Regions from separate parts of the Homo sapiens genome. Here regions 1 and 2 are each linked to region 3. Evidence: fine-mapped expression QTL. A gene starts in region 3. Each other region holds a variant in brackets. All regions are shown on one strand. Distances are between the middles of the regions. Region 1 has its middle 8.9 kb from the start of PRR14. Region 2 overlaps FBXL19 (F-box and leucine rich repeat protein 19). Region 3 holds the start of CFAP119 (cilia and flagella associated protein 119).

Region 1 (2,841 bases), 120 kb after region 3:
CTTGGGAGGCTGAGGCAGGAGAATGCTTGAACCCGGGAGGTGGAGGTTGCAGTGAGCTGAGATCATGCCACTGCACTCCAGCCTGCCCGAAAGAGCAAGACTCTGCCTTAAAAAAAAAAAGAAAAAAAAGAAAAATTTTTATAGAGATAAGGGTGGTCTCGCTATGTTGCCCAGGCTAGTCTTGAACTCCTGGGCTCAAGTGATCCTCCTGCCTCAGCCTCCCAAAGCTCTGGGATTACAGGTGTGAGCCACTGGGCCTGGCCACACGTCTTAAAAAAAAAAAAAGTTTTTTTTGTTTGTTTGTTTTGTTTTTTCTTTTTTGAGACAGAGTCTCGCTCTGTCACCAGGCTGGAGTGCAGTGGCACAATCTCGGGTCACTGCAACCTCCGCCTCCTGGATTCAAGCAATTCCCCTGCCTCAGCCTCCGGAGTAGCTGGGACTATAGGCACGTGCCACCATGCCCAGCTAATTTTTTGTATTTTAGTAGAGACGGGGTTTCACCATGTTGGCCAGGCTGGTCTCAATCTCCTGACCTCGTGATCTGCCCACCTCGGCCTCCCAAACTGCTGGGATTACAGGCATGAGCCACTGTGCCCGGCCAAAAAAAAAAAAAAAAGTTTTGAACACTCCTTTTACTCTGATGAAATTAATGAATAGATAAATAAAACATCTATAATACTACTTTTAAAAGTCAATATAGGCTGGACACATTGGCTCATGCCTGTAATCCCAGCACTTTGGAAGGCCAAGGCAAGCAGATCACCTGAAGTTGGGAGTTTGAGACCAGCCTGGCCAACATGGCAAAACTGCGTCTCTACTAAAAATACAAAAAATTAGCTGGGCATGGTGGTGTGCACCTGTAATCCCAGCTACTCAGGAGGCTAAGGTGTGAGAATTGCTTGAACTGGGGAGGCAGAGGTTGCAGTGGGCCAAGATCGTGCTGCTGCAGTCCAGCCTAGACTCTGTCTCAAAAATAAATAAATAAATAAATAAATAAATAAATAAATAAATAAATAAATATTACAGGCTGGGCGCGGTGGCTCACGCCTGTAATCCCAGCACTTTGGGAGGCCGAGATGGGTGGATCACCTGAGGTTGGGAGTTTGAGACCAGCCTGACCAACATGGAGAAACCCCGTCTCTACTAAAAGTACAAAATTAGCTGGATGTTGTGGCACATGCTTGTAATCCCAGCTACTCGGGAGGCTGAGGCAGGAGAATCACTTGAACCCGGAAGGCGGAAGCTGCAGTGAGCCGAGATCGCACCATTGCACTCCAGCCTGAGCAATAAGACCGGAACGCCATCTCAAAAAATAAAAAAATAAATAAATAAAAATAAAATAAAAAATAAATGTTACAACTACACGGTGGGCATGGTGGCTCACAACTGTAACCCCAGCTACTTGGGAGGCTGTGATGGGAGGATTGTTTGAAGCCAGGAGTTCAAGACTCCCATCTCTAACAGAAAATAAAGAAAAATAAATTGAACTAGTGGTTACTCTTGTGGTAGGGTAGTAACTAGGAGGGACATGAG[C/GAGC]CTTTAGGATGCTACAGATGTTTTGTTTTGCTTTGTAGAGACAGGGTCTCTGCTGGAGAGAAGTAGAGTAAAGAAAAAAAAAAGGAGGGAGGGTCTTGCTCAGTTGCCCAGGCTTGAGTGCAGTGTTGCGATCATGGCTCACTGCAACCTTGAACTCCTGAGCTCAAGCAATCCTCCCACCTCAGCCTCCTAAGTAGCTGGGACTACAGGTGTGAACCCCCATGCCCAGCTAAATATATATGTATATATTTTTTGTTTTGTTTTGTTTTTGTAGAGAGGGGGTCTCACTCTGTTGTCCAGGCTCCTCTTGAACTCCTGGCCTCACCCATTCCTCCCCAGCCTCAGCTCCCAAAGGGCTGGGACTGTAGTCATGAGCCACCACACCCAGCCAATGTTTTGGTTTCTTGATATGGGTACTGGTTTCTTGATATGGGTGTGTTTACTTTGTGACAATGCATTGAGCCTACACTTAGGGTTTGTGCACTTTTCTGTATTACATTATTCTTTAAAAAATTTTTTAAATACGCTGGGAGCAGTGGCTCACGCCTGTAATCCCAGCATTTTGGGAGGCTGAGGCAGGCAGACTGCTTGAGTTCAGGAGTTTGAGACCAGCCTGGGCAATATGGCATAACCCTGTCTCTAAAAAAAAAAAAAAATTAGCCAGGAATGGTGGTGTGAGCCTGTAGTCCCAGCAACTCCGGAGGCTGAGGTGGGAGGATGGCTTAAGCCCAGGAGGCAGAGGTTGCAGTGAGCTGAGATGCCACGACTGCAATCCAGCCTGGGCAACAGAGCCAGAACCTGTCTCTCTCTCTCTCTCTCTCTCTCTCTCTATATATATATATTTTGGCTGGGCGCAGTGGTTCATGCCTGTAATCCCAGCACTTTGGGAGGCCGAGGCAGGTGGATCACGAGGTCAGGAGTTCAAGACCAGCCTGGCCAATATGGTGAAACACCATCTCTACTAAAAATACAAAAATTAGCTGGGCATAGTGGTGCATGCCTGTAGTCCCAGCTACTCAGGAGGCTGAGGGAGGAGAATCTCTTGAACCTAGAAGCGGAGGTTGCAGTGAGCTGAGATTGCACCACTGCACTCCAGCCTAGGCAACAGAGCAAGACTACATCTCAAAAAAATAAAAATTTAAGTAATGTATATGTCAGTATGTAATGCTTGGGTAGGGCTTTGCTAGGAGATTTGGTGAAGTTGTCATATTGAAGTTGTCATATGCTTGTACCCCCCATTTTTTCCCCACTACCTTTTTCTTCCAATTAAGCTGAGCTTCCCTGAGTCCTGAATAATCCTTTCACCTC
Region 2 (2,500 bases), 170 kb before region 3:
TTTCTGGCATTCTAGCCTCTCCCTCTCCTGATTCCTTCCTCTCAACTAATAAACATCTGCAAATCTCTCCAATTCAAAACATGAAAAGGAAAAAAACCAACTCATGCCCGACCCAGCTTCTACCCCTAGGTCCTGCCCCTTTGCTCTTTCTGTGAGCAAGAAAATCGGTGACATCTGCTCTATCCAAAACCTCTCTCTGCCCACTGTGACCCTGCCACGACTGCCTCCCAGCTTAACTGTCACCACTTCCTTGAAGCCACTTCCCTTCCACGGTCCACAGCTGGAAGGAAGCCCCTTTCCCTGGGGGCACCCACAGGACCCCAGTTGTGTTTCTGTATCATACTCCACAACAGCCAGGCCACACACCTGCCCACCTATAGACACAGTGCTGTCTGATGCCAACACGTTGTGGCACATGCTGTGCCTCTGCCAGAAATGCCAACCCAGAGCCTTCGTGGCTCGGCTCCAGTGCCTCCTCTTCCAGGAAGTCTCCCACACCTTCCTTGGCTACAGCTCATCAGTCCCCCTGCTCTTGTACAACCAGGACACTGGGGTTAAACCTCAGAGGGACAACCAACAGTCACTGAGGGCCCTACTGATCCCAAGTATCTGGCTTCCACTGGGCACGGAGGAGGCAAAGATGACAGGTTCCTGCCATACAGTCAGGGAGACATGGACAGTCCGCAGTAACTGAGGTGACAAGGGGCATGGTAAGAGTCACCTCAAGGACTGGGTGGGGGAGCCTCCTGGGGGGACAATGCCTGACCTGAGACTCCGAGGAAAGCAGTAGTTATTTCAGCAAGGGGAGGGGGAGGAGGGTGTGTGTTCCAGATGGGCAAGAACCTGTGTCCAGGCCCACAAGAGACAAGACGGAGAGCTCTGGAAACCCCAGGCCACAGGAACTCATCATCATAACCAGAGTCACGCTGATCACAGTGACTTCAGCACTACTAACCAGCCATCATCCAGGGTTCACTGTGTGCCAGGCACTGTCCCATGCATTAAGCACTGAACCTCACGCCAGCCCTAGGAGGTCAACATTACCATCATCATCTCCTTTCTACAGTAAAGAAAATGAGGCAAGCGTGTGCGGTGGCTCACGCCTGTTAATCCCAGCACTTTGGGAGGCCAAGGAGGGCGGATCACGAGGTCAGGA[G/AGGAG]TTCAAGACCAGCCTGGCCAACATAGTGAAACCTCGTCTCTACTAAAAATACAAAAATTAGCTGGGTGTGGTGGCACGCGCCTGCAGTCCCAGCTACTCAGGAGGCTGAGGCAGGAGAATCACTTGAACCCAGGAGGCAGAGGTTGCAGTGAGCCGAGACCACAGCATTCCACTCCAGCCTGGGTAACAGAGTCAGACTCTGCCTCAAAAAAAAAAAAAAAGGTCGGGCGCGCTGGCTCACGCCTGTAATCCCAGCACTTTGGGAGGCTGAGGCAGGTGGATCATGAGGTCAGGAGGTCGAGACCATCCTGGCTAACATGGTGAAACCCCGTCTCTACTAAAAAACAAAAAAAAAAAAAAAAAAAGAAAAAAAATTAGCCAGGCGTGGTGGCAGGCACCTGTAGTCCCAGTTACTCAGGAGGCTGAGGCAGGAGAATGGCGTGAATCCGGGAGGCGGAGCTTGCAGTGAGCCGAGATTGTCGCCAGCCTGGGTGACAGAGTGAGACTCCGTCTCAAAAAAAAAAAAAAAAATGAGGCCCAGAAAGGTTGAGAAATGTATTCAAGGTCCCACAACTACCAAGTGGTAGGTAGTAGAGGCGGGGTTCCACCTAGCCCGTCTGGGTGGAAAGCCTGAATTCTGAGGAGAGAAGAGGCAAGAGTGGAGCTGCAAAGGAGGGATGGGTGTCATGTCAAGGAGGGCTGGAATGCCAGGCCATAGACTATCATGGTCACAGAGCCCAGAGCTGAGGATGTGAGCTATGGGGATCTAAATCCCAGCTCTGCCACCTCCAGGCTTTGGGGGGCCTCAGGCAAGTCACTCGCCCTGTGTGGGCTTCCATTTCCCAAACTGTACAGTGGGGTGAAGAACAGCGCTTCCTTCAGAGGTTGCTGTGACAAGGAAGGGACACAGCTCAGGGAAGTGGTTGGTGCAGTCGGTAGGCCCAGTTCATGTCCATATGTCCAACAGGACTGCGATGGTGGGCGTCTGTTGTGAGGGCGACAGGGAGCCACAGGTGGGTTCTTTCTAAGCTGGAGAATGACACTGAGACAAGAGGCAGGGAAAGCTCTAAGAGCCAAGGTGTGCCGTCGTCCCAGAGACATGTGGCTTGATGCCAAAGTCCCCTAACCCATTCACTTCCTCCTGGACTCCAGCCACCCCGCAATGAGTCCTCTCCTACTAGGCCGACCTGCAAACCCTCAATTCCAATCCTAACCCTCCCTCTTGCAGAAGCCCCCGGGAACAGGGAGCTGGACCAGCCCTTACTGCCCTCTGAAGGCTCACGGCCCCTAGGGCTCCAAGCACTGCCAGTTCCGACCTCTTGTAGCTCTCTGGGCCCCGATGCT
Region 3 (2,841 bases):
GGGCCCAACACCAAAGTCCCCTCCTCCCCAGGACTTCTCCCAGAACTTAAGCTCCCCAGATCCCAGCACTCTGGTCCTACCTCTCAGCTCTGATGTCCCCGGCTCTGGGAGAGGAGTCCCATCACATGTTGGCCCCTCCTGGGTCCCAGGTGCCTCAGGCGCTGAAGACAGCTCCCCCTGGCTCTCATGGCATCGGAGAAGGGCTTCCACAGTTTCATCCAGCTGGAAGGAGAAAACATCAAAAATGTTATGAATCCCTTAGTGCTTTCCAACATGATACTCCTTTCCTAGCAGGGGAATCTGGGGATTGGCAGCTGAATCAAGGCCTGGTCTTTGAAAGCAGAAGGTATCCACCTGGGCCCAGTAGCGATTGACGATGAGGAGTGTGGCATCATCTGTGGCCTGCCGCTTCTCCAACTTCTCAATTCGTTCTCGGAGTTCATCTTCACAAGCCTGCCGTTGTTCCAGCCGCTCTGCCAGTTTCTTGTTCTTGAACTGTAGTACCTTCAGGTCCATCTCCTCCTACCAAAGGAAACAAAGGGGCCGACGAGAGCGTCAAGCAGGGCCCACAAACCAATCACAGAGAGAGAAAGAGGAGCAGAGCATCTGCAATGCATGGGAGATGGAGGTATTCCCACACTAACCGCTAACAGAATCTAAGGAGGCTCAGACAACACACAGCGAAAGTGTCTTTGTTGTGAGGAGGCTCACGTTGTTTCTGCCTGTCCCCTTGTAAATCCTTAGTCTTTGACAAGTCACACGCCCCCTGGAAACCTGTTTTCCTATCTGTAAAGGGAAGACAGGCGTCGTGTTCTGAGCTTCTTTCTAACCTTTCTTTCAAGGTCCTGTAACGCGGACCTTGCTAAACTTGGGGAAGTGGGTGTAAGATTCCGCACAGTTTGGCCAGAGAACAGAGGGAGGGCTCTGGGAAGTTCTGAGGGTTAAGGCAAGAGCCCACGAACCGTGGAAGAGATGCCTCCAAGACGAATGGGCTCGATAAGAGTCGTGGTGGTCTTCTCCTCACGACTCAGCTTCTTTTCCGGGGGCCCTGAGCCCCCGTCGCCGGCGGCGCGTTTGTTGCCTGGCCCAGACATGGCCGCGGCGGCTGGAGCGATGCAGGGTCCCCTGAGGGGCGTCAAACGGGAGGAGGCGGTACTTCCGTCACCTGCAGAAGACACAGAGCAGAGATGTGGGAACGGCTGGTGTTCCACAGCCCCAAACACCCTCCACCCTGCACACACCTGCTGGATCCCGTCCCCCCCGGCGCCAGAGCCCTCACCAGCAGGAGGGTCAGCCTAGCGCCGCCATCTTGGATTTCACCGGACGTCACTGGGCGTCACTGGACGCCACTGCCCCCCCCCCAACGGTGCGCAGGGCGCAGGCGCCAAAGGCAGCCCCGGATGTGAGGAAACTTCTTTATCTTCTGCTTCTATTGGTTACGCTTGGTCCCGCCACTCGGGTCCTCTGGCTTCTTCCCAAACACCTCCTCTTTCTCTCGGTGATTGGCCAAGAGGCAGTTCCCATAGTAACTGACACCGCGCTCCCACTTCCCAGCCTGGAGGACAGCACCGGCCCTCGTATTAGCAACCTGGAAGAGAGGGCGCCCAGGTGGGCACTCGCAACTTCTCACGTATCTGCGCGTTCTCTTCGCTCCCACTGGCGTGAGCCTGCGCTTTCCGCCTTCCTTCCCTCACAAGCCCCCTTGGCAACCGTCGCCGTTGAGACGGAGGGAGACGCCCCCACGGATTCGCCCCGCCGCGCCTCTCCGCGCGTAGATTGGCCGGAGCGAGGCGAACGGGCCCGGCCTTGGTAGCCGCCGACCGAGCGCTGGCTGTCCTGGAACCTAGGCGGCGGGAGCCCGGGGCGCCTCGCGGCACGGAAGAGCGGCGAGATGCTCAACCGCAAGACCAGCCACTTTTTGGGAATGAGGGTGCAGTCGGAGCTTGAACATCTCTCCGAGCTGCGGCGGGAAGCGGGGAAGGATCGCAGCTCAGTGCATGGGTCGGCCGCGCGGACGCGTGCGAGTGTGCGGACTCAGTGGACGACGGCGGCGGCGGCGAAAGCGGATGAAGACCCCGGAGCCAACTTGTTTCCGGTGAGGGCGGGACAGTCTGGTCTGCTCGTGAATATTTATAAACCGGCTCCCCCGCAGGCGCCACCTGTCATTATGCTTACTAACGTTCGGGACGTCTCCCGGGCTGCTTGGGCGAGGAGAGGCAGGGGTGTGTGACCCCGGTGGTTACTGTGCTCGCGTAGAGCACCTAGGGCCTGCTGAAGCCCTCCCTCGCCCGCGCCTCTCCTTAGTCCTTGAGATGAGATGGCAAGTTACAGCGGCTTCTCCGGCCTGCTGGAGATTCGCTACGGGCCAGGACACCGCAGCTGCCTTCCCCAATTCGCTTTCTTTCCGCAGCCGCCGCTGCCCCGACCCCGGATCTGCATGTGGTGAGTGTGAAGAGACAAAAATTACACTGAATATTTGCGTTCTTTATTGTCTCCCCAACAGTCCTGTCTGTGGCCAGGGCATCCCCATTTTACAGATGAGACTGAGGCCTGGAGATGCAATTACTCCAGGTGACTGGAAGTTGGCTTTCCAGCCTCTCCAGTCCAAAGAGGAGGCAGTGTGAGAAAAAAAGAGCCAAAGACAGAATGTAAATGGAGTCTCATGGCCGCTAAGGAGTATTGTACAGAGGGGGACACTGAGGGCCACAGGGAGTACTTGACCAAGGTCATACAAGGTAGTGGCAGAGCAGAAAAAAGAATTCAAGATTCCTAACCCTAGGCTTTAGAAATGGAGAGGCTCATAAGAGTTCATTTAGGCCCAGAGAGTTAACGATTTGCATA

What was found. PIP is the estimated chance that this variant, and not a neighbour inherited with it, causes the effect.
Region 1: its variant is the best candidate, but not a certain one, in a credible set for the expression of CFAP119 in lung (TOPMed, PIP 0.52).
Region 2: its variant is the best candidate, but not a certain one, in a credible set for the expression of CFAP119 in whole blood (TOPMed, PIP 0.58).

Annotation. Positions count from the first base shown.
Region 1 is chr16:30,640,652-30,643,492 of GRCh38, reverse strand. No RefSeq gene overlaps it. Among named protein-coding and RNA genes, the nearest start is that of PRR14, 8.9 kb to the left of the region's middle. The variant C/GAGC (reference allele first, on the strand shown) is at 1,534.
Region 2 is chr16:30,935,623-30,938,122 of GRCh38, reverse strand. All of the region lies in intron 7 of FBXL19 (F-box and leucine rich repeat protein 19), which reads right to left. Among named protein-coding and RNA genes, the nearest start is that of ORAI3, 12 kb to the left of the region's middle. The variant G/AGGAG (reference allele first, on the strand shown) is at 1,157.
Region 3 is chr16:30,760,799-30,763,639 of GRCh38, reverse strand. It overlaps CFAP119 (cilia and flagella associated protein 119), which reads left to right and starts at 1,578. Exons shown (of 9, transcript NM_001014979.3): 1 at 1,578-2,095; 2 at 2,411-2,442. The coding sequence starts at 1,892. PHKG2 (phosphorylase kinase catalytic subunit gamma 2) reads right to left here. Exons shown (of 10, transcript NM_000294.3): 10 at 2,464-2,841. It overlaps RNF40 (ring finger protein 40), which reads right to left and starts at 1,318. Exons shown (of 20, transcript NM_014771.4): 1 at 1,280-1,318; 2 at 963-1,165; 3 at 355-522; 4 at 81-222. The coding sequence starts at 1,094. RefSeq lists enhancers at 1,000-1,109, 1,230-1,489, 977-1,614, 1,570-1,749, 2,340-2,489 and 1 more and a silencer at 2,026-2,255.